Homo sapiens: one gene and its partners. The protein of the gene in region 5 interacts with the protein of the main gene of each other region in a biochemical or structural test. Each region holds a gene or a part of one and is shown on either strand. Other genes may lie near its edges.

Evidence for each region.
Region 1: of the proteins of PDGFRB (region 5) and PTPRG, one has a biochemical effect on the other in vitro, tested with the Homo sapiens proteins (one large-scale study listed by IntAct).
Region 2: the proteins of PDGFRB (region 5) and PATJ interact in a test that uses a peptide from one of them, tested with the Homo sapiens proteins (one large-scale study listed by IntAct).
Region 3: the proteins of PDGFRB (region 5) and SNTG1 interact in a test that uses a peptide from one of them, tested with the Homo sapiens proteins (one large-scale study listed by IntAct).
Region 4: the proteins of PDGFRB (region 5) and CAV3 form a complex in vitro, tested with the Homo sapiens proteins (one study listed by BioGRID).
Region 6: of the proteins of PDGFRB (region 5) and PTPRE, one has a biochemical effect on the other in vitro, tested with the Homo sapiens proteins (one large-scale study listed by IntAct).
Region 7: the proteins of PDGFRB (region 5) and PARD3B interact in a test that uses a peptide from one of them, tested with the Homo sapiens proteins (one large-scale study listed by IntAct).

What each region holds. Positions count from the first base shown.
Region 1 is NC_000003.12:62,201,571-62,205,070, reverse strand, and holds part of PTPRG (receptor-type tyrosine-protein phosphatase gamma isoform 1 precursor), read right to left. Parts: intron 1,899-3,500; coding exon 1,121-1,898; intron 1-1,120.
Region 2 is NC_000001.11:62,158,480-62,161,447, reverse strand, and holds part of PATJ (inaD-like protein), read right to left. Parts: intron 541-2,968; coding exon 394-540; 3' UTR 1-393.
Region 3 is NC_000008.11:50,698,407-50,701,906, reverse strand, and holds part of SNTG1 (gamma-1-syntrophin), read right to left. Parts: intron 1-3,500. UniProt on the Homo sapiens protein: Adapter protein that binds to and probably organizes the subcellular localization of a variety of proteins. May link various receptors to the actin cytoskeleton and the dystrophin glycoprotein complex.
Region 4 is NC_000003.12:8,732,634-8,736,601, reverse strand, and holds the start of CAV3 (caveolin-3), read right to left. Parts: upstream 2,801-3,968; 5' UTR 2,726-2,800; coding exon 2,612-2,725; intron 1-2,611. UniProt on the Homo sapiens protein: May act as a scaffolding protein within caveolar membranes. Interacts directly with G-protein alpha subunits and can functionally regulate their activity. May also regulate voltage-gated potassium channels.
Region 5 is NC_000005.10:150,149,346-150,152,845, forward strand, and holds part of PDGFRB (platelet-derived growth factor receptor beta isoform 1 precursor), read right to left. Parts: exon of another isoform or gene 2,994-3,500; intron 1-2,993. UniProt on the Homo sapiens protein: Tyrosine-protein kinase that acts as a cell-surface receptor for homodimeric PDGFB and PDGFD and for heterodimers formed by PDGFA and PDGFB, and plays an essential role in the regulation of embryonic development, cell proliferation, survival, differentiation, chemotaxis and migration.
Region 6 is NC_000010.11:128,067,603-128,071,102, reverse strand, and holds part of PTPRE (receptor-type tyrosine-protein phosphatase epsilon isoform 1 precursor), read right to left. Parts: intron 2,981-3,500; coding exon 2,817-2,980; intron 2,464-2,816; coding exon of another isoform or gene 2,241-2,463; exon of another isoform or gene 1,418-2,240; intron 1,412-1,417; coding exon 1,276-1,411; intron 803-1,275; coding exon 653-802; intron 296-652; coding exon 202-295; intron 1-201. UniProt on the Homo sapiens protein: Isoform 1 plays a critical role in signaling transduction pathways and phosphoprotein network topology in red blood cells. May play a role in osteoclast formation and function.
Region 7 is NC_000002.12:204,548,475-204,551,974, reverse strand, and holds part of PARD3B (partitioning defective 3 homolog B), read right to left. Parts: intron 1-3,500. UniProt on the Homo sapiens protein: Putative adapter protein involved in asymmetrical cell division and cell polarization processes. May play a role in the formation of epithelial tight junctions.

The DNA of each region.
Region 1 (3,500 bases), on a different chromosome or scaffold from region 5:
TAGATGAATTTTAATGTTTACAAGTGCAAAAGCAAATAAATATTTACCAGTTGCTTTTTTTTTGCACTCTTATAACTCCACAACAGCTTAGACGCAAAAAAAATTGTTGCTAAACATCTTGTAGTCTGGCAAAATGAAGAATTTCTTATTAAGAAAAGCCCTCACAACAATAACAACTCCTCATGCTTATGGCTCCCTTGCAGAAACTATCAGGATGGTTCATTAAGATTTGAGCATATGATAGAGCAACAAAATTGCCACCAGGAGATGAGGATCTCATGCCCTGGCCTCACTGTCTATACACTGGCTCATTCCCACAGCAATGGGAGCTCTGGGAGAGAGGGCCGTATTTCTTGGGCAAGGACCATGGGCCAATACCAGCTCTCCCCAGGCTGAAGCCTTTCATTCTGTAGGTTTCCATGAACAAGCCACTTCTCCAGAGTGGCCTTTCTTAATTAAGGTAGGTCCCTATCCTCTCCATAATTCTCTTGGACAGCATCCTGTTTATTTCCTCTATTACCATTTCACAATCGAAAACTTCAGTTAGTTAGTTTTCCAGCTTGCCAGTTAACCATCTAGCTTGCCGACTAACCACCATCTAGCTTGCTGGCTTTCTAACGTTCCTGCTACCTAACTTCTGGGCATGCGCTCCAGCTAGCTACTGTCTTGTCATCTGTCTGCCTTCCCCTTTAAACTTTTTAGGCAGGGACTAGGATCCCCTGGGACAGCACCCTGCCCAGTCCCTGGCACCAAACTAGCCATTTGTAGATACATTATATAATGAATATGGAATGAAATCTTAATAAATAAACTTCTTAAGATCGATGGCTTTTTTTATTCATGTATATCATTGCCTGGTTGAAGTCCCTGGAGTTATTCCGAGGCAAGAAAACAAATATCAAAGAAAGACTTACTCCAGCGTAAGAGAGTAGGCTTTTGGAGTAAAACAGGGACACACACATACACATTTCACATGTGTGCACCTTTTCTATGACAGACATATATGATTCTAAGAATATTAAGTACCTTCTGAAGCTTCACCTTCTGCTCCCAATTTTTTGAAAAAGGGTACGACTATTCACAGGAGCAGGAACCCTCGAAGAAGACCTGCACCACTTACCTGGATTAACAGTGATAAATCTGCTGTCTTCAGAAAATCGGTCCCCGCGGGACATAGGCTTTTTAGATGGCATTTCGGGCCTCTTGGGATCACTCCCTGCATACTGCTCCTCTGTGGCGGTGGGGGGCACTTGGGTGGAGGTGACCATGTCGGGGTCCAGGCCTGGGCCGGCATCCCTCCTTCCGCCCGTCTGGTCTGTGGGGACGGCAGTGTGATCCTGCTCATGCCCAGGTATAGTCTGATGCCCTCCCTCGGCAGTCCTGTTAGGAGACGAGGGTGTGGGGCTGGGCTCCGTCTGATTCCGCTCCTCGGCAGCGTGGGTCACCCCACTCTTCTCCTTCTTTTCGGAGTCCTTCTCTCCATCCTCCTCGTGCTCCCGCTCCCCATCCTCACTCTCGCTTTTCTCATCCTTCTCTCCTTCCTCGGTGCCCTCGCCGTCCTTGGTTGGTGACGAATCACCATCGGGCCCTGGAGAAGCCAAGGCCTCTGTGGTGGCTAGGACTGGCCTAGCCGCCTGCTTGCTGGCTGAGGCGGCCGTCGGGAGGCGCGTGGGCCACACAGTGCTGGGGAAAGAGGAGATGCCACCACCGCCGAACCCCAGGCCGGCGAGCAGCGTGCTGGTGACCACCGAGGCCACTGTGGCCTGGCTGCCACTGGAGGAGGGGCCCATCCCAGTTGCCATGGAAACAAATGAGAATGGGATGCCAGAGGACGTCCAGGTAGAAGACCCCGAGCTGATGGGGGCCATGTCGGCTGAAGAGGCAGGAGACGCTGTGGGCTGGAAAGGGTCACCCGGCAAGGGTGGAAAAGAGGCAGAAGAAGAAAAAGCAGAGAAGCATCAGTAATTGAGATTGGGAATGAGGCCCTGGTTGTCACCCTCTGAGGATTTTACTCATCTATGCTATGGAGTTTTCCAATGTATGGCATAAAGTTGACATTAGGTGGTCCATGGGTGATCAACTTTTATTTTTAATGGTTTTATAATTGTGAACATGTTAAAATGCATAACTAGTCGATCAAACTCAGCTTTTCACTGATATTACCCAAGATGAGGCTAGGTGCCAAAAAAACTAAGTAGTGTTAAAGCTGACTTACACAACAAAGAAGTCATGAACTGGAAAAATCAGATGGTCATCTGTTCTTGGGGTGATGAGAGGCAGAAGACCTTTGATTTTATGTATATCACTGACACTTGAGTAGATACTCAGCTCTAGGTCTGGAAAGATACTGGGTGATCCAGTCCAACCCCACTGTCTCCCAGTGAGGAAGTGGGTGGACAAGGAGGGAAAGCAGCCTGCCCAGGTCTGCAATGACAGGGTCAGAGGCAGGAGCCATGCTCTGCACTGCATGCTCTGGGCACTGGTTTACATCTCTGCATCTCCATGTTGGGCACTGCAGAGTCACTGTACCTTGCAGTTTCTAAGTTGATCCGTGGGAAAATCTGAGCCCATACAGATGACAACAACATCAACAACAATAACAAGAATTCCAATTAACAAATGCCAACCGTGTGCCAGGGCTTTCCATGCTACTCTGGAGGCAGGCATGATCATCACCCCATTTTGCAGGTGAGGAAACTCAGACACAGAGATGTTAAAGAGCTTACACAAGGTACATGACCTGGAAGGCACAAATGCAGGGCTGCCTGGGTCTAAGACTCGGCTTGTTCTTACCACCATACTAAACTGGGGCTCAAGTCTGGGGGTTTTACTCACATAAGGTATCTTAGGAAAACAAGAAGTGCTGCTCTGAGCTATTAGTCTAATTTTAGCTTGCCTGCTGGGTGATGCTGGACACATTACTTTAACTCACTGAGCCTCGGTTTCCTCATCTGTAAAACGGGAACAACAGTAACACTGACCTTGTGGGCTGCCTGGAGAAGTAAATAAAATAATCTGTGCCTGAAACCCAGGAAGAGCATAGTGAATTTTAGGCTATTATTATTATCACCACTGCTGTGATTAGTATTTTAATTATTCATTATACCAACCAGGAATGGGGAAACTAAGATATTAATTCTGGTTCCAGAAATTTTCAGATCCATATAACTTTACGCAAATGACAACCTCTGAATTTGAGTATATGTCAAATGAAAGGGTTGGAACAGATTTAACTCCTTTGTGGTCCTGCATCGTCTGATCCCACAAATCATAACTAAAAATATGAAGAATTTTTACCTTCACAAAATTATATAATATAACCACCTAACACTGTTGCACAGCTTGTGTTCATAAGGTACTGAATTATAAAAAGTGAATAATGTAATTTTTTCTCTACTATAACCGCTTTACACTGAGCAGTTTAACAACATTATACTGCCACTTCGTGGTGACAGTTTTAACTGCAAGCAAATTAACAACCAGCCACGACAAAGCAATTT
Region 2 (2,968 bases), on a different chromosome or scaffold from region 5:
AGAATCGCTCCAACCTGGGAGGCCGAGGTTGCAGTGAGCCAAGATTGCGCCATTGCACTCCAGCCTGGGTGACAGAGTGAGACTCCGTCTCAAAAAAAAAAAAAAAAAAAAAAAAAGAAATCGGAACACTGAAATTAAATGCAAAACAGGTAGACTCATTTAAGTTTTAGAAATCAACCTCGCCAACAGGTGACAGGAACTGGGAAACATTAGGAGATGATTGTTGATTTGGGAAATTCACATGAAACCTCAGCCATTTCTCCTGAGCAGAGAGGGCAAGAAATAAGAATGAAGGTGCATTTTAGTTGAGGGTGCTTTTCATACCCACTCAGAACTTCATCTGCCTGTGGATATTCTAAACAACAACATCTATCTTGTGATCAGGCCCGAGGCTCATGACAGCACAGTTAAGGTTACAGTCCCTCTCTGGTGTTTTAGAATGGCGACTGCTTGCTCATGAGTAACACCTTCCAGGGTCTCGCCATTAACAGCTAAAATCTGATCCCCTCGTTTTAATCGGCCGTCATCTGCAGCTGCTCCCTACAAACAAGAAACATTTCAGTTTAATCCAGGGTAAAACACAGTTTATATTAAATTGATATTAAAACCTCTAACATCTGTCTGGTGTGCATATTAAAAGAGTAACTTTAAAAACTACCAATTAAGTTTTTTCTAGGTAATGTTTTAAATTAGGAAAAAAGTAAGATATGCTGTTTGAATAATAATGGTTGAATAGTAACTATAATTATGGATAATCTAAATAACATACTAGTAGAAATGTACTGATACACTGCTTTTAATACAAGTAGAACCTTATTTCACTATTTAGTATTAAATGGAATTGGATGTCATATCATGTCCTATTCATGAAAACGTAATATACAGAAAAAGGCAGATAGAACTGAATCTGGTGTTAGTCTTACTGCAAATACCACCATTATACAGAGTTCCCATTGCATTATTAAGCTATCAGCACTGTGATCTGTCAAAAATAAGTGTAGTCTTTAAATGGGTGAATTGTATGGTAAGTGAATTATATCTCAATAAAGCTGTTATCTACATATAAATATATACGAGTGTAGCATCTCTAAAATTTTGTAATATATTCAAAACCTTCCACTTTATCTTTGATCATCTAAATAGGTTTCTAAATGACTACTTTTATTATATACTCAGTCATGCATAGTTCCTCAAAACGGCACAAAGCCAGTGAAACTTCAGGGTTTTTTCACTCTAAAGCTGCATATCTAAAAATGCCACGATATTACTAGAAACATTTTGGACTGGTAAGGGAAGAAAAGACCTTAAAAAATGATTTACAGGAGGTTTCACCATCTGTAGGGGTAACTGTTTCAGTCCCTTGAAAAGTCAGTGCCAGAAGAATCCTCTAAATGAGGTCAAACTTCAGTGGGCAACCAAAGCCCACAGGCACTTGGCCCTCGACCGACTCAATCAGAAGCCGAGCTAGGAGGCACTAACGCTCCTGAGATCTGTGTCCATGTGCAGCTTGGAGGTCCTGAGGTGCTGGGGAATCAGACAGGTTTTCTAAACCGTGAGAATGGTGGAATTTCTAAATGAATGTGCAATAAAGAATATTCAAAACCTGCTGGGTGCAGTGGCTCATGCCTGTAATCCCAGCACTTTGGGAATCTCAGGCGAGAGGATTGCTTGAGCTCAGGAGTTTGAGACCAGCCTGGGCAACATGGTGAAACTGTCTCTACAAAAAATTAGCCAGGCGTGGTGGCTTATGCCTGTGGTCCCAGCTCCTCGGGAGGCTGAGGCAGGAGGATCACTTGAACCTGCAGAGGTTGGAGTGAGCTGAGATAGTGCCACTGCACTCCAGACTGGGTGACAGAGTGAGCTCTGTCTCAGGAAAAAAAAAAAAAAAAAAAGTATTCGAAATCAGGTCTATACTGTGGGCAAAATATCAAAACTAAATATTAATAACTTGCAACTGGCTGGACATGGTGGCTCATGCCTGTAATCCCAGCACTTTGGGTGGTCAAGGCAGGAGGATCACCTGAAATCAGGAGTTCAAGATCAGACTGGCCAACATGGTGAAATCCTGTCTCTACTAAAAATACAAAAATTAGCTGGATGTGATGGCGCATGCCTGTAATCCCAGCTACTTGGGAGGCTGAGGCTGGAGAATCACTTGAACCTGGGAGGCGGAGGTTGCAGTGAGCTGAGATCATCCCATTGCACTCAGCCTGGGCAAAAAGAGTAAACTCTGTCTCAAAAATAAACCCCAAAACTTGCAACTTCACTCAAATCTTTTAAGAAAGTAATGTGTCAACTGTATTAAAGACAAAATTAAACAAGTAATTTTACTGGATAAAATCAGAATTACTAGGCAAAGTTGATTTTATTAAATTTTACATGCTAAGATTTAAGGGCTTCAGTAAATCTCAGATATCTGTGTAAATTAATTTTTTAAAAACTATGTTAAGCTATTTATCTTTTTTAGTAATGCAAGGAAAGAATTTTTAAATTTTTTTGAGAAGGAGTTTCACTCTTGTCGCCCAGGCTGGAGTGCAATGGTGCGATCTCGGTTCACTGCAAACTCCACCTCCCAGGTTCAAGCGATTCTCCTGCCTCAGCCTCCCAAGTAGTTGGTATTACAGGCGTCTGCCACCAGGCCCGGCTAATTTTTGTATTTTTAGTAGAAACAGAGTTTCACTATGTTGGCCAAGCTGGTCTCGAACTCTTTTTTTTTGTTTTTTTTTTGAGACAGAGTCTCGCTCTGTCGCCCAGGCTGGAATGCAGTGGTGCAATCTCGGCTCACTGCAAGCTCTGCCTCGCCGGTTCACACCATTCTCCTGCCTCAGCCTCCCGAGTAGCTGGGACTACAGGCGCCCGCCACCACGCCTGGCTAATTTTTTGTATTTTTAGTAGAGACGGAGTTTTTTACCGTGTTAGCCAGGATGGTCTCAATCTCCTGACCTCGTGATCCGCCCACCTTGGCCTC
Region 3 (3,500 bases), on a different chromosome or scaffold from region 5:
TGCATTCCAGCGTGGGCAACCAGAGGGAAACTCCATCTCAAAAAGAGGAAGAAGAAGAGGGAGAAGGAGGAGGAGGAGGAGGAGGAGAAGAAGAAGAAGAAGAAGAGGAGGAGGAGGAGGAAGAGGAAGAGAAAGAAGAAGAAGAAGAAGGAGAAGAAGGAGAAGAAAAAGAAAAAGAAGAAGAAAAAGAGGAAGATGAAGAGGAAGAGGAAGGCAAAGAAGAAGAAGAAGAAGGAAGAAGAAGAAGAGGAAGAAAAAGAGGAGGAAGAAGAAGAGGAAGAGGAACACGAAGAAGAAGAAGAAGAAGAAGAAGAAGAAGAGGAAGAAAAAGGTATTATATCACAATAGATTGAAAAGCTAGAGAAATGTTCTCTAGGAAGTAAATTTTAAACAGTGGCTGAAAACGAGTAGAATATCAAAGATAAAGTATAGAAAAAGGGTGTTCTTTCCAGAGAGTGGATGGGACTGGCTGGGGCCAAGTCAGGCATTTCAGAAATTCAAAGAAAAGGAGGCAGAAACATTGAGAGCTGAAGCTAGGGAAGGACATGGGATGATTGATCTGGTTATAAATTTTGGACTTGAACACAGTATAATGACAAGCTACTATAGCAAAAATTTTAGTATGCCCTCTCTTTATACTGCAGATATTTCAACATCTACCTTAGCTTTTTAAATTGATAAATTGGCAAAAATCTATAACTAAACGTTGCAGTTTCCAGAAACCTTGCCAATTTTATGGTTTATTAAATTGCCCTTCATTTTCCTTATAATAAAAAATATTATCTAATGTCATTATTAGTCAGAAAATTTTGTTATTTTTTCCTTTTCATAAATCACATGTAGCAATAGGATCTTAAAATGGACTTCATGTAAGATTTTCTATTCTCTTAGCAAAACTTTACTCCTTTGCTCTTTTAAAACTCAATTTAAGATCTTCTGTTATATTACCCAAGTCGTGACTCTCTCTCAGACAAAGCATCCTCTAATCAACTCTGCAAATATAGTTTCAGCATCTCTGAAAACTTCTTGCCATTTCCTGTTGTTATTTATAATATACTTCTCATGAACTGACTCACACTGCAAATGGCATCTGAGCACCCAGGTCTCATTTTAGTGAGGGAGAGAAATATGTTAAAATAACGAGCATATGACAGTGCTATAGAGGTAACATGCTAAGGAAGCAGAATAAGGAACGATAAATCATCTTGAGGGAAAGTAGGAGGGGGAAAGTTGTATTGTAGGGAGAGACTGTAGTACCATCAAGGACTTAAAGACAAATGCAAGAGCAACCTGGTGCAAGCCTGAAAAAGACCAGGTGATCCTGCTAAGAAATTCATAGAATGCACCTGCCAGGAAAAGATATTGGAGAGTTAAGTGAGAAGGGGGCAGCATAGACTCTAAGCTTTAGATGGCTAAGAGTGGATGGGTGGGAGGAGGAGAAACTTTGGAAAAAGCAGGGGTTCCTTTATCAGAAATTTAGTGAAAAGTGACTATAGCTCAATCATTTTAAAGATCTACTTTCAACATAATCATCTAAAATCATTGACACTAGATTTCTTTTACTAGAGTTTCTACCTTTGCTGCCTATAACATTTCAAAAGATTGTGTTCCTTTACGGTTGCAGTCATTATCAAGTTATATGCAAGTAATAATATATATATAACTAACTGAAAAACTAAATAAGATACTCTTAGAGACTGGCATTGACTAGAAGTATTAGTATAATAAGGAGTATTTACACGATTATCCACATAGGTTTAAATAAGAATGTATATATTCCTCTTTCTCACCCTCATTCTCTCTCTAACACACATGCAGGAGCTGTTATAAGGTGATAAGAACAAAAGTTCTAGCTTCAGAATTCTGTCTTGATTTGAATCTCCTCTCTTTTATTTATTAATAGGTAATCCTTGTCAAGTTGATTACCATATATATAGCTTCCTTCACTCATCACTAAAGTGGAAATAATTAATTGATCTGATGATTAAATAAGATACTATATTTAATTCTTTGCTTAGTATCTAATACTTGGAAGTACTTAATGTTGGAAATTTTTGTTGTCAGTATTGATTCAATAAAATAAATACAGATAAATATTCGTATCATTTCCTAACTTGCCTTCTATGGCTTGCTCTCTGCATGCATTTCTCTTTTGTCATAGTTTGACTTATGCCCCAGTAGAAAGAATAGCCTCCAGAATACTTTTTTGCCAACTGGAAAGTATCATTTAATAATAGTAATGATAATAATAATAGCTAAACATATCAAGAACTCATCAGTTGCATTTTTCTCAATTTTCTCACTTCTCCAGAAGTATCTTCTATTTTGTTAGATTTGTTCCAAGTTCTCTCAGATTTATAAAGCAATATTACAAAGAAACAACAGGTTTTTTTTTCAAGATGGCTGACTAGATGCTTTTCCAGGGTACTTCATCCACTTAGAAGAATGACAATGGTGTGTAGACAATCACACTTTGCACATATGAAAGCAAAATCAAATATTGGGACCCCAAACTCACTATACCAAAGGGCTAAGTTTAGGTAGTTAGTCATGAAAAAACTGCCTTCCTTTCATTCCCAAAAAGCTGTAATTTCATGTTTACTTTATGTAAAATGTAGCTTTTCTGCTCATTAGTAAGATCCTCACAAGAATGTGACCACTTATCTCATTGCCTACCCAGACTTTTTTTCTTTCTTCCTCTTCCTGCTTGCTTTTTCCCTGTTAAATATTGAAGTTCCCAGAACCCTTTTTAAAAAAAAGCACAGGGTACAGATCTCCTTGTGATTTGTGTTTCTTTTTCCCAGGCATGTTCTCAACCTTGGCAAAATAAATCTCTAATTGATTAAGATCCACCTCAGTAACTTTTTTGTTTACAAACATATTATCCAAGAGAGAACACAGGAGTTCAACAGTAACACACGAAGAAACTCCAAAATCTGACCAGAAAAAGAAGAACAGTCAGCCTGTGTGGCTGTGGGACTGGCTGAAAATGAGAAGAGAGTAAATTCCCAATATGGGAGAGGGTGAGTGAGTATCTTTCTGTGGTCCAATTTCCCACTATAGAATCATATAATTCAGGCCACGGTAGAGCACCATGACTTTTCTAAGCCCTAGATCTACCTTGGGATGTGGCTGGGAGACTGTAAGAAGTACCTGCTCTGGGAAGTGTCCCATGCACTTCCCGAGACCTTGGAACCTACAACAGAACACCATTCTTGATCCTAGCTCTTTGCAAGCTGTGCACAGTCCTGAAAACTAGCAGCAGTGGCAGCCTTTGTCATTAAAGAGGCTCTAACAGTATCCTGGGGATCTGGTGCTCAAGCAGGGAAGAGGTTCCCACAGCCAGAACCGAGAATCAAGTATGGCATGGGCTCCAGCCATTGGCATGCTGGAACCAGGCTCACCCCATCTTTCACTTCACCCCCTTCCCCCACCAGTACAGGAGGGGATTTGTTTGGGAGGCATAGTGTTGGGCTGTGCAGTGACTCCTAAGGCCTGGG
Region 4 (3,968 bases), on a different chromosome or scaffold from region 5:
ATCCAAGGGCTCCCTCTGTACTTACCAGCCATTGTGGGTGCCCTTTAGAAACCATGTTCTCCCGTGGGATCCTCTTTCCCATCTCCCTGCAGCCCACCTGGGTGTACCAGATGGCTACCTGGGCATGACGCAGGCTCCTGGCTTAGCTCTCTTGCCCTCTAGACTGCAAGCTCTTTGAGACCCTTCTTTGACTCACACTGTCTCATCCTTGCTGGGTGCCAGGGACTGTGATAGACACTTTCAAACCCTTCATCTCATTCAATCCTCATGCTATATTTCTAACGCACAGTGCTGCTTTGAGATTCGTTTACCTGGTGGAGGTAAATTGGGAAATGATATTATTCCCACTTTACAGGGGAAACTGAGTCTCAGAAAACCTAGTTGGTTTGTCCAGTGTTATCATTTTTAGGTAAAATGGACTGGATTTGAAATCAAGTCTATTAAAGTCAAGTCCAGGACTATTCCTGCTAGATGACACTGATGGAAACCATAACTAATAATATTTTACAGGTACAATTTTATTTACATGTATATAGTGCTTTACAGTTTGTGAAATTTGTTTCCTAATTTTCCTCATTTCAGCTTTCACACTGTGCTATACTGTATACTCTATCTCCATCACTAACGATGTATAGAAATATAATATCCAGTATAAGAAGAGCTGTGGTGGAGGAATGCCCTGAGTGAAGCAGGGGGACAGAAGTGGGAGCAACTAATTGCCTGGAGGAGTCAGGGAAGGCTTTCTGGAGGAGGTTGCATTTGAGTTGGGCCTTGAAGGCTGAGTGAGGCATTCACCACCTGGAGAAGAGAGGACAGGCACTTCTGGCAATGGCACAGGAATGTACTCTGGTGGGTGGGCTGGCAGGTGGGAGCCAACCAGGCAGAAGAAGCAGGTTGGGGCCAGATTGTGTTGGGTTTGGACAGCCACGTGGAGAGGCTAGGCTTCTCCAGCATGGGAGGTGCCCCACTGAAAGACCGCAATACAGGCCTGTCTGATCCAGTGGCCAGGAGCTTTGAGCGCTTGAAATGTGGCTAGTGAAACTGAAGAATTCTAGATTTTGTTTAACTTTAATTAAAATGTAAACCCCGATTTCATTATTGAAAAATTTTTGCAGAATGTTTGAAACAGTACAGGCATGCGAATCGATTTTCACATGTACATTTTATGAAATCTAAATGCAGAACAAGCATTTCGGATGAAAATGTGGGGTCTGAACTGAAATATACTGTGGGTATAGGAAGCACACTGGATTTCAAACTTGAAGACTGTACAATAGCTCATTGATAATTGTTTTATATTGCTTACATGTTGAAATAATACTATTTTAGATATATAGGGTTAAGTAAGAAATATCAGGAACATTAATTTCACCTGTTTGCTTTCGCATTTTAAAATGTGGCTGCTAGAAAATTTTAAATTCCTTGTGGTAACAGTATCCCTATTGGACAGCACTGGCCTGAGATTCCAATGCTTTCAGTAGGATCTGAGAGGCCTCAGACACTGGCCTCTTAACAGCCCCTCCAGTGACTCAGATGCTGGTGGCTGGGGACCCTTCTTGGAGGAATTCTGCTTTAGAAAGGTACCTCTGAGCCAGTTGTGGAGTCTTGCACCTGTAATCCCAGCACTTTGGGAGGCAGGAGGATCACTTGAGCCCAAGAGTTTGATACCAGCTTGGTCAACATAATGAAACCCAGTCTCTACTAAAAATACAAAAATTAGCTGGGCATGGTGGCACTCGCCTGTGGTCCCAGCTAATCAGGAGGTGGAGGAGGGAGAATCACTTGAGCCTGGGAGGTTGAGGCTGCAGTGAGGCGTGAGTGTGCGACTGCACTCCAGCCTTGGGGACAGAGAGAGACTGTCTCAAAAAGAAAAAAGAAAGATCCCTCTGGGTACTGGCTGGAAGTTGGATTGAAGGTGTGGGCCTGGAGGCAGCAGGGCCGCTAGTGTCACCAGGAGGCGAGGGAAGAGGCCCAACTTCAGACGCTGAGAGACTCCCTGAGGGCTAGACAACCCCGAGCTTTCTCTTCGAGGGTCCCGGGTGCCGTCTGCCCTGTCCTGGCCACTAGACCTGGGGTGAGGGGGTAGCTAGGGGAGGGCTGGGCATGGCCCTCGGCCTTGGGGACAGATATTGGGCAGTGCTCTGGGGGAGTGAGTGTACCTCGAGGGGCTGCCGGCCCTGCTGGAAGCTGCCCTCTGGGGATTAACCCTGCACCCACTGGAGAGACCGCAGAAATGCCCCTTGGCACAGAAAGGAGCCCAACTTGGCCGCCCGTTCCTGTTCCTCCCAGGGTGAGAGCCAGGAGTGAGTGGCAGGAGCGTCACAGTAGTAAGGAGGGATTTTCTTTGTGACTCGCTCCTCCTGCCCTGATTAGCACTTAGGTCATGGAGATGAGGCTAATTTTTTGCTCTTGATTTTGCTAAAGATCCTTCGGTGATTTAGAAGCCTTTTTTTGGGGGTGGGGTGGGGTTGGGGGGGTGATACAGAGACAACAGAGCAACAAGTCTCTTTTCAGGGAAACTGTGTCTGCAGCAGATACCCTCCCCTGCCAAGCGCCCACGTCTCGCAAACCTGACACTCTCCGCCCGCCGAGGCAGGCCTGCAGAGCCTACCTTGACTATGTCCTCGTTAATGTTCTTGGGGTCTCGGTTCACCAGGTCAATCTCCTTGCAGTGGATATCCTTGACGATCTGGGCCTCGAGATCTGTGTGCTCTTCTGCCATCATCGCAGAGCTGGGGGGATCCACAGGAGGAGATCCGAGCTGTGTGGCCGGCTGGGGCTGAAAATACTTGGGGCAGAGAGACCAATTCAGTGTCCCCAGACTTATGTCCCTGCCAGCTAAATAGGCCCCACCCAGCATGCCGGCTGACAGCTGTCCCACATAACTTCAGCCTGCCTCTCTCTAAAGCCTCCTGTGGCAGGCCTCCAAGCTAAAATTAAGACTGGAGCTCTTCTGGAAGGCCGATCGCTCCTTAAAGGGGGCTGCCTCAGGGCACTGGGCCTCAGGAGAGGGTGCAGAGGGCCTAGCGTTTCCTATGCATCGTGTGGCTGTGGCCAACTCGGCGGTCGCTCCGGGGCCCCTGGAATTTGCCCCACTGCTGTCAGCATTTTGGCTCCTTTGGGGTGCACTGCCCGTGGAGGGAAGTGGGGTTAGTCCCTCCTCTGCCTCTGGCTGGCTGTGTGACCTTTGGCACACTTCACCTCTCTAGGCCACTCTGTCCCCATCTGTAAAATGGAGAGATGATAATAACAATCAGGGCTCTCCTACCCAGGGAATGGCTTCAGGAGCTGGAATGCGATGTAGTGGGGCTTCTCGTTGGATTGCCAGTGCCTGGCCCTGCTGCTTGGTGACCTGGAGCAGGTCCGAGCTTTGTGGGTTTCTGAGGTTTCCACCTGGAGCAGGAGTTGATGGACTGTGGTGTGGGGCCAGGCTGGGGATGAAACAGGGAGAGGAAGCTGCTGTGGGGCTGCCCCTCGTCTGCCGTCTGGAGCCTGCACTGGGATATGCCCGGTGGGGGGAACATGAAGTCCATGTTCGTGCTACCCTTCACCCTGCCCTAGTGACAGCTTCCAGGATTTTCTTGGGTCCCAGACACTCCACATGCATCAGTGGGGTGCACCTCTCTTAGATACCTGCTCGGTTTTTCTGTGCCCTCTTCTAACTCAGCCTTCCCCTGGGCTCCAGCAGCATGAAGGATGGCAACTCTGAATCCTCAGGGGTCAGGGTCTGTGCTTCCATTTACCTGTCTATTCACTCCTTCATTCAGGATTTGCTAATAGCTGGGGATAAACAGACCAACAAGGCTCTGTCCGCCTTGAAGTGCTCCCAGTCAAGGTGGGGAGACTAATTAAAACAATAAGTGATTATAATACTGTGCGGTAAGTGCCACAGATCAGAGATATTTTACAAAGAGCTGGTCTTAGAAGTCCATAGGAGTCAGTAACTTACTCTGAGGACACCGGGGAAG
Region 5 (3,500 bases):
TGTTAAAAATTATTAACAATTTCAAAATGATGACTGCAGAGCATTAAACCAAACATAGGCCCTTCTAAGCATGGGGCCCTCAGGAGGATGAGTACTCATGAAGCCATCTCTGTGCCCTGGACTAAAGGGGAGGCCATCTGTCTGTCTCCATCGATTTATCCATCCATCCATCCATCCATCCACCCACCCACCAATCCATTTATGCATCTCTACATGCATTTATTTATCTAGTGATTATTTCACTATCCATTCAGCAGATAGGCCCTGGGTTGGACACTGATAAGGACACAAATACAGGTGAGATGGGAGCCACCCACAGTCCACCAGGTCAAACCTGCACCTTTACCTTCAATGCTCTGGGCCAGGAGGGGCCAGGGCTTCTGTGACATGTTTAGAAAGCTGAGCCCTACCCCTCTAAGGCTAACTGGAAACCCTGCCCCACCCTATAACCACTGAGGCTCAGCCTCAGAAGTGAAGAAGCTGGTGGTGTCACTGCCCTTGGGTTTCCACTTCTCAGAAGGGAAGGTAACAGAGCAGCAGCAATGAGGATGTGGCAAAACAGTCACAAGAAGCATGGTAGGAACTCTCAGGGGCTAAGGGCAGAGCTGGATGGACCTCTGGGGGCCACTAAACTTCTCCCTTGGCTTCTCCCCACTTTATTATAAGAGGAAACTATGATTAGAATGAAGAAGTGGTATGGCCAAAAGCTCGGGGGTCCAGCAAACCACCCAGGAAGATTCCCATTTCTTGTTGGGACGGCTTTGCTCCTTTTCAGCCCATAGCCCAGACAGACCTGGAGGCTGAGCCCTGAACCACAGAGGTGGAGCTGGGTCTCTCCAGGCCTTCAGAGAGATGGTAAAGACCCAGCACCTGTGGTGGAACAAAGGCGAGCCCAGGTCCCAGGCTCAGCGTCATCACCAATGATCTGTACGGACCTTAGGTGCAACCCTTCCCCTCTCTGGACCTTAGTTCCCATCCATACAATAAAGCAGTTGGATCAGGTGACCCCCAAAAGTCCTTTTCATCTCTGACATTCAGGAACTTTCAGACCCCCTGACCCTCCCAAGGGACAGCCCTCTCCATCACAGGGCGGAGAAGCTGGTACCTCTGGCAGATAAAAGGTTTCAGGCACCTGAGACATCAAATAGCCCTGATCTGAATTGAGGAGAGGAGGGGATTTTAATGCGGTTAAAGCAGTACACTTTGATTTTCAGCCTCCTGCACCAGGCTGGGGGTGGGCTACCCCAGGAAGCATCTGGTGGATGTAGGGGGCGGGGGCAGGGTGGGCTCTGGGGCTAAGGCTTGGAGGTTCAGGAAGACTTTATCCTGAGGATCTGGGCCTGAGGGCTCAGGAGGGATGTGAAGTGGGCTTCCACACTGGAAGCAACAAGCATGGGAATTTCACACCCACTCCCACCAGAGGTAGGTCCCTGTGTCCATTCCCCCCCTCACCTCTGGATCCCATCACTCATCTGGGCCAAAGCCTTGCTTCCTCTTGAAATTAGAGCATATGAGGTTTGAAAACGCAGCACTGGAAGAGACCTAAAGGGTTACAGCATCCACACACAGCCCCTAGTGGGCCTTCCTCCCCGACCCTCCCTGCTCAGTATCTCAGGAAAATGGGCATGTGGGAACTGTAGGAGCCCTCTGAGCTCCTCAAGAAACTGAGCACGTTAAGGGGCCACACTAATTGTCAGAAAGTTCCTCATTGTTATTGCAGGTTAAAGTTTTCCATTAGTGGTCATCGATCCTGACCTCTTTCTGTAATGTGTAGAAAAAGGGTAAGAAAAAAACCCTTTCATTGTGAAATTAAATATGCATGATCCCTGAGTACACAGCAAGGCTTGTGCAGCTGCCAATCTGGGCTGGCATGGCTTGGAATCCTGAAATTGTTTTAGGGCTGGAAGAAAGATTTACCATCATCTGGGTCAACCTCCTCGTTTGACTGATGGGAAAACTGAGGCCCCAGAAGGGAACGATCTGTGCACAGTCCCATAGGGTTCTAGGGTCTGATGACTACCTCTGGAATGCTGAGGGCCCCCACAGCTGAGGCACATTCTCAGGGTTTACACTGGATCCCCAGGGGCATCCCAGGCCCCATCCAGCCTCTCATCAAGGGGATCTGGAGTCAGAAACACCCAGGTGCAAATCCCAGCTCCGCCACTTCCGAGCTGTGGGACTTTAGGCAACTGACTCTGCGCACTTTCTCACCTGTAAAATGGGGAGAGTTTAGCTGGGTGCGGTGGCTCACGCCTGTAATCCCAGCACTTTGGGAGTCTGAGGCAGGCGGATCACTTGAGGTCAGGTAGTTCGAGACCAGCCTGGCCAACACGGTGAAACCCCATCTGTACTAAAAATATAAAAATTAGCTGGGCATGGTGGCGCACACGCCTGTAATCCCAGCTACTTGGGAGGCTGAGGCAGGAGAATCACTTGAGCTTGGGAAGCGGAGGTTGCGGTGAGCCAAGATCATACCATTGCACTCCAGCCTGGGCAACAGAGTGAGACTCCATCTCAAAAAAAAAAAAAAAAAAAAGTGGGGAGAGTTTATATATCTAATTTTGAGGTTGCTGTGACGGTTTATTTATTTATTTATTTATTTTTTTTGAGACAGTCTTGCCCTGTCGCTTAGGCTCACTGCAATCTCCGCCTCCTGGATTCAAGCAATTCTAGTGCCTCAGCCTCCTGAGTAGCTGGGATACAGGTGCGCACCACCACGTCTGGCTAATTTTTGTATTTTTAGTAGAGACAGGGTTTCACCATGTTGGCCAGGCTGGTCTCAAACTCCAGACCTCGGGTGATCCACCCGCCTCGGCCTCCCAAAGTGCTGGGATTACATGTGTGAGCCACCGTGCCCAGCCTCGATGGTTAAATTAATCCAGTAAATATTTACTAAGAATGTCCTGAATGCCCAGCATGTTCCAAGTGCTGAGGAATACAGCAGCAACTTTGAGGTAACAGATGTAAAGCACAATTGAAGTAGACACAGAAAGTGCTAAGAACGAGTTGGTTCCTGTTATATCATCATGCTCACACTGCTTCCCAGCTGAGGTGCTACAAGCCCTGACCCTGGGAAGGGGCCCAACACCCCTTCCCTTCCCTCCTAACGCTCTGGGTCAGAAGACAGGGGGCACCAAAAAGATTCCCATTCCAAGAACCCACTGCCCACTGGGTTCTGAATCAAATGCAAGAAATGGGTGGGCATTTCAGAAGACCTTTTCATCCCTTTCTCCCTTCCCACTGCATTCAGCAGCAGCCTGTTCTGAGCCAATGCCCAGAGCACCCTCCTTTAGCCTAGAAGGCAGCTGGTCTCAGAGTCAGACTGTGGCCTGTGCCTGGAGGATGGACACGGATCTTTGGAACATACATGGTGTCCAGGTCCCTTCTGTGGGCAGAGCCTTTTGCAGGTTGCAGATTAATTTCACAGCCAAGTGTTCCAATGCAGGAGGCCAGGAGAGCAGTGGTTCTCTCAGCCAGTGGCCAGAGGTCCAGCTGTGAAG
Region 6 (3,500 bases), on a different chromosome or scaffold from region 5:
TCTGGGTCAGCTGGTGCTTCACAGGTGTCTTTTCTACCTGACATTTGGTACAGCACACAGGAGCCCTTAGCCTGAGGCCAGAGGACACCCTGCTTTTGACCCTGGTGCACAGGGGTAAGCGGTCAATGGCTTCTCCAGGATGAAAGCCTCCGGCACCAGCCCCGCCCCAGCCCTGCCCAAGCCACGCCACGGGTGCCTTACACGGGATGATCTGGATGACCCTGGCCTTCTTCATGTTTGCCGGCAAGTTGCCCGTCCTCATGTTCTCCTTCATGATCCGGACATTTGTCAATTTCTGCAGCAGAGAAGGATATAATGACACAGTTAAACCTCTGACACTCCTGAGCACATTGCTCAGCCGAGGACTAGTGCTGCTGGCAAGGACGCCTGCTCAAAGGAAACCACTCTCCAACCCAGGAAGCCTCCTTAGCATTGGGAAATACAAATGTGTGCCTAGTAGGGCTGCTATGAGGCTCTGAAAGCCACCTGATCCTTCTTCCCTTGTAAATCATGGCTCAGGTATTGCCCCTGCTTTTTCTGAGGTCAGTTAAGGGGCAAGTGATTGAAAGAGGCTTCCTTTAAATGGTCACCTGTTTTCCTCGTGCCCTTGGCTGCTTACACCAGGATGGAGAGGAGGGTCAGCTGTACTCACCCTGAACTCCTCCTCCAGCCCGATCTTGTCGAAGTGGGTGGTGGTGCCGTGCATGGTCTGCAGGTGCTTCTCCAGGGAGGACACGTCCAGCTCTGTGTCCCCGTAGAGGTAGTACTCGAGTAAGGCTTGGTAGATGAACGTGTACTGCATCTGCAGAGAGGCCAGGGGTGCCCACACCCTCAACTCTGCCCTGCAGTCTTGGCCCACGTGGAGCTTGGCAGACCAAAGAGGGCGGCTTTCTTCTTTTTCTCTTTTTGCCAACACAAGGAGGTGTGAGGCAAGAGTCAGAGTACCGGCCACGGATAACGACCATTTATGCCCTTGAGTAAGGAGAACGGTAGCAGCAGAGCCTCACATTGGTGAGCACGCCACGCACTGTGTACATGCACCGTTTGGGGGAGTAGGATTGCCCCATCTCACATGAGGATACGAGGGAAAGATGAGGACGAGGGAGTCCCTGAGGTCCCACGCGTGGGCAGGGAAGGCTATGGGGAGCGAAGCCAGGCCAGGCCCAGGCTGGTTGCCACGTGCCCATCAGAGCCAGGGCCCTGCACACCTGTGTGGCGAAGGCATCGGGTTTGCTTTGGGAAGCTAGATCAGGGCAAGAGGAAGGCATGACTCACATCCGTTTGAACCATCTGAGGGCGCTGATTACGGATTCGAGACACAAATTCAAACACATCCACCTTCTGCTCCGCGTGCATCATGGCCATCATGGCATCGATCACAATGAAGGTGCCCGTCCGGCCCACGCCCGCGCTTTGGGGAAAGAGAAAGATGCTGCGTCGTGAGTCACACTCCTCCCGAAGTAAATGAAAGGCCCCGAAGGGGCCTGCGCACCCAGGTCACTGGATGCAACTTTTTGTTTTTTTGGTTAATTAGGAGCAAAGCTACAGTGCAGCCACCAGAGGGAGCTGTGGTCTCAGTAAAGTGATCTCAGGCCGGTCCTCTGATAGCCACCGACACTCTACTAAGAGGCACATTAACAGCTGGTGCAGTAAGCCTCGGATTAGGCTGTGTGGAGAATTTTTCTCACTTACCAAACAGTGTCTTCTTCTTATATGTGTGATTGGCATCCTAGATCTGTCCCCCTGGGAGCAGAGGGACCTCAGATCAACTATGCAACAGCTCTGGTATCCAGCCTCCCTCTCTGTCAAACTGGGCAAACCAAGTCATCTGACTCGGGGCATTAAGTGAGGTGGCATCTGTCAGATTACTGTTATCTGACCCTGCAAATTCTTCCCAGTATGAGCTACACTGGAGGGTGGGTGGGGTGGGGTCCAGCCTCTGCTTGGCCCCAGCAAGCGAGTGTTGCTCAGACTTGGGGAAAGCCCGTTCTTCGGGGGTTCCTGGACGGCTTCTCGTGAACACCTGCATGACAGGTGCAGAGCGCCTGCATCACTGCGTGCAGGTGGCTTTTGTCCCTGGCAGTGCTGTGATACTCAGAATGAACCTGTCTGTAACAGATGGAAACTTAGTATCTAATCAAAGTGATACCCTGGTGAGGCCAATCACTGCCAGGAACAAGTGGGGCTCTCTGTGGACAGGGGGTTGTGGGGTGGCCTTGGCTGTACATTTGAGTAATTCTTCATGTTGTGCAAAGCCCACCCAGATGCCAGTCACAGGCTCCGCCGAGGCTGTCCTTCCCATCACAGGTGAGGAAACCGAGGCTGAAGTGGCAGCTGGCGAGGGGCAGCCTGGTCCTCGGACCCTGGTCTCCAGGACAGCGTGTTCTGGAAGACTCTGCTGTGGGGGCCCATCTGAGCATGGTGTGCTCTTCCATAACGACTTGTGTGTTGTTGGGGGGCTTCCTGTAGAAACCAGGGGGCTTTCTCTCATTTCCATCTTGGTTCCCAGAGGTGACTTGGGATTCCCGGGGAGAGGTGAGGGCGGCCAAGCAGACCTGCCCAGAACTCCATTCCCACCATCAACCGGAGCCTCCTGGCTTTGGTGGGTTTTATCGACTGGGATGAAGAGGGGGCTCTCTGAACATTCTCCTGTAGGGTTCTTGGGGCCTGGCTCAGTCACTGACATTTGTGTTCACATCAGCCCTGCCCAAACCTCTGCCCACCCTGATATTGGTCCCCTGGCATTGCCCATGAGGATGAGTCATCCCACTGTGGCCTGCCCTTGAGGGTCCCGCCCCGTGGCCCCCACAGCGTACCTACAGTGGACCACGATGGGCCCAGCGTGCACGGGGTTGAGCGTCTTTACTTTCTTGAGGAACTTCAGCATCCCAATGGGGGTAAAAGGCACTCCGAAGTCGGGCCAGCTGGTGAAGTGCAGCTGTGAGACCAGCCTGGGGGCTTTGCAGCCGTCGGGGAGCTGCTGCGGGGGACGCGGGGAGACAAGAGTGGGTGAAACAATCCTCCCCCTGCTCCCCCAGCATCTCATTCTGAGGACGCCGCCGTGGGCTCCCCTGTGCTGGGGCTGCGTAGGGGAGGGGCCCATCCACAGAGGGCCTGCCTGAGCCAGACAGCCTGGACCTTACCCCTGCCGACTCTGAACATGTGCTGCTTTTGGGGCCACAGAACAGGGCCCGCAGCAACCGTCTATGCCCAGGTCAGGCAGGGCCCAAGCAGCCAGACACATCCCCAAAGTTGGTCTGTGTGCTCACAGACCCCCGTGCAAGCAGGGCGGCCATGGCCCATCTTGCCTGGACAGTCCCACCTCAGGCCGGTGGTGCTGAGTAATCACCAACAGCACATCCTTCCTTGGGCAAAGCTGTCTTACATTTGGGAGGACAGATGATGCAGTCGGCCTGCTCTTTGGAGTCTCCCAGACCTGCCCTCAGAGCCTCTCTCAGCTTTTGGACCCAGAGCCCATGAGTTTAATTCCCTTGCCCAGA
Region 7 (3,500 bases), on a different chromosome or scaffold from region 5:
CTGCCCTCTTGAAAGATGCAGATCTAGAACATCTCTTCATCCCAGAAAGTTCTACTGCACTACACTGCTTTAGATTTTCCAAGAGAGGCCCAAAGCTCTGAATGTTTAACACACTCCTCAGATGTCTTTAACAGTCCACTCATAAAATAGTCTCACAAAAATCTGACAACATTACCATTTGCCCAACTTCTTCAAAGGGAATCTGTAGCACAGAATACCCTGGGAATGAATTCCTGGTTAACTAAGCCACTTGATTAAGCACAGGGCCTCAAGCTACAAATCAGGGCTGTGGCTCCCAATCGCGCACAGGGCAATTAACTCAGCTCAGATAACCAGCCAAACCCGGTTCAGCAAACCCTATGTGCATGGATTATACACAGAGGGTGTGTGGGGATGTGTGTGTGAGAGGGAGAGAAAGAGAAAGAGGAGGGAGGGGAGAGAAGATCCAGGAGCACAAACTCAAATGCCCACCAGCAGGCCAAATAGCAACCATGAATTAAGGCCATAAGTGAGAAAATAAGCACAGAGTAAAAACAGTCAAGCATGATGACAATAACTTATCCTCACTGTTAGGGAAGCAATAATGGAGACTGAAGCATTAATAATTCTTTCTAAAGAGAGCAGAGGTGTCTCAGCTCCAACTGATGGTTGCTATGTGGGAAAGTAAAGCCCAGCATTGTCAGAGCTTCCAATTTGCTTTTCCCCCAAAGAAGATAGGAATCTGGAGTTTTGCATGAAATCTCAAAATATTTAAATGCTGACAACTAAGTCAAAATATAACACTGAGCAGACCTACAAAAATATGTCTGTGGGTCACAGCAGGCCCCACGAGCCCTCTGTTTGCAAACTTAGAAGCTGCTCAATGCAAGCTGAGTAGCAGAACCAAAACCAAGTTGGAAGCATGTGTAATGCTGATGGCGAGTCAGTTCTGTCCACATGCTGTAAAGAAGTGAGGTCTGAATAGGAAATAAAGCACTCAAGTAAGTCAGTGCCCAATCAATTGAAAAGCATTTGAGGAATCCAGTCTGGGCCTAGCTTATGTATACAAGAACCTTAAAATCTATTTAGGTAACAAGGCATCAAAGCCTGAAAAGTTTAGAAATTCAAGAGTTCTAGCCTATTCCTCCAGGCTACTCCCACACATTATCATACCAGATTCTTCTAACTACACAAATTCTCTTAGATTCCGATCCCACAGTTAATCAGGGAATGGAATTGTTAGTCTAATCAGACTACTCCCAGTTCTGGGAAGCTGCCTCAACTTGTAAAACAAACATATTATTCAAAATATCTGAATACAGAAAAGATTCATCTTGAAAACCCTATCAAATATAATTTTTCCTTTCCAAAAAAGGGTGTACTCACATACGCAGTCAGAGCCACAAATTGGCCTTTGTAAATTCCAGCATGCCTGCTATTCCACGAATTCAATGCTCTTATTTCTCATTCATTCCAACCCCAGAACACACTATACATCCTCATTACTAGACAAGCCTTTCCCTTATTCACTTCATCCTCAGTGAATACACACACACACACACACACACACACACACACACACAGTCAGCCCTCCGCATCCATGCATTCCGCATCTGCGGATTCAACCAAACCCCAGATCAAAAATATTTAGAAAAAAAACTACGTGTACTGAACACACACACACAATTTTCTTGTCACTATTCCCTAAACAGTATAGTATAACAACTGTTTAAATAGCTTTTACATTGTATTAGGTATTATAAATAATCTAGAGATGACTTAAAGTATACAGGAGGATGTGTGTAGATTACATGCAAACACTGCAGCATTTTATATCAGGAACTTGAGCATCTGCAGATTTTGGTATCCGAGGGAAGTCCTGGAATCAATCCCCTATGGATACTAAGGGACAACTGTCTATATAAAATGAATGTTCACTTTAAGCAATTATTTGAGCACCTTCTATAGGAAGAATTCTTTAAGGGTAGGAGTAGGAGTATTCCTAATGGCACTAAAAGGTCAATAAATACTCTAACAAATTCCATGCTTTTATTTGTTTGTTTTTTTTTAATGAGAAAAGGCCAGAAATGTCAAAATTCATTTTGAAAAACAATGTGTAATAAATTCACTTTCTGTAAATCAGTGAAAGACACTTAAAAGGTTTGAATCCCTAGACAGCAAGGTTTTAAGCCCTGCACTTCATAATAATAATCCCATTAACAAATAACATGTATTGTGCTTATTCTGTTGCTTAATAACAGATTGGTGTGTAGATATCTAAGACACAGTATCTGCCATCAAAAGAGTTTAAAATCCAATGAGTTCAGCCATACGAAAAGATTAGAGTAGATTAGTGATTCTCAACCTTGGCTGGGCATTAGAATCACCTGGAGTGCTTTTTAAAATACCTATGCCCAGGACCCACTCCTAACCCAATGAATGAGAATCTTGGGGGAAGGGACACAGGTATTTGTAATGTTTAAAATGTTTAATGTGAAAATTAGAGGTTACTGAAGTTCAGCCAGGGTTGAGAGTCCCTGCAGGATACAGCTCAATTACCCATTCACCTGTGACACATAATTTTGATGATAAATTTAACTAATTACTCAACGATCCCCACCATAAGCACATAAGAAGACAATCACTTCTCCACTAACAACTTCACTAAATTGGATTTGGAGGCTGGGACACTGATAAAGTGTCAGGATTCGGAGATAAGCAATCCCACAGTTCTCACCTCTCAGTCCACCACGTTTCCAATGGAGTTCATCAAATGGTGGCAGGAACCTCAAAGGCCCAGACTTCAGAGCATAATTAAAGCCTTCCCAAAAGCTCCCCCTGTATCTTCAGGATCGCATCAACCTCTGGCCTTATCTGATGTTGATTCAGGGGGTTCCCAACATTCCACAAATAGGTTTTCTTTGTTCTCAACAGGTAGTGGTTACTTCTCAGACGCTGTCCACGAAATATAGAATGGCATTCTTGGACTTCACTTACTTTCCAAACTTTAGAAACCTCAACTTCATCCTCAATCTTGAAACCTGTCTTTCTCCCATCTACATTACTCAGTGCCTCAGAAAATAATGGACTTACTTTACATTCATGTTCCCACCAAATTTGGTTCTTTATAGCACTCGCCACCTGGATGTCTAAGATCTTGCCCATTTTCCCATTTGTAGTTAGACTGAGGAATATTTTTCATAGTTGATTTGCAAATCCTACAATATTTGCCTCAGAAACTAGATTTTCTACATGTAGACCTCATAAAATATATAATTAAGAGAAACTTGTGGATATCCCATCACTATTCCAGAAGCAAAATTGCTATTTTTAGGTTGATGTGATATAGCAGTTAGTAGATGGAAATGTCTTTTTAAATCAAGCATTAAAAAACAAACAATATGGATAAATTCCAATTCATAACAACATACATAGTACTAGGCTATGCAGTTAATGGCTGAGAGCAAACATCTAAAGACACAGTTCCTGGTTTCTAAACCCAAATCTACGACTTACTTGTC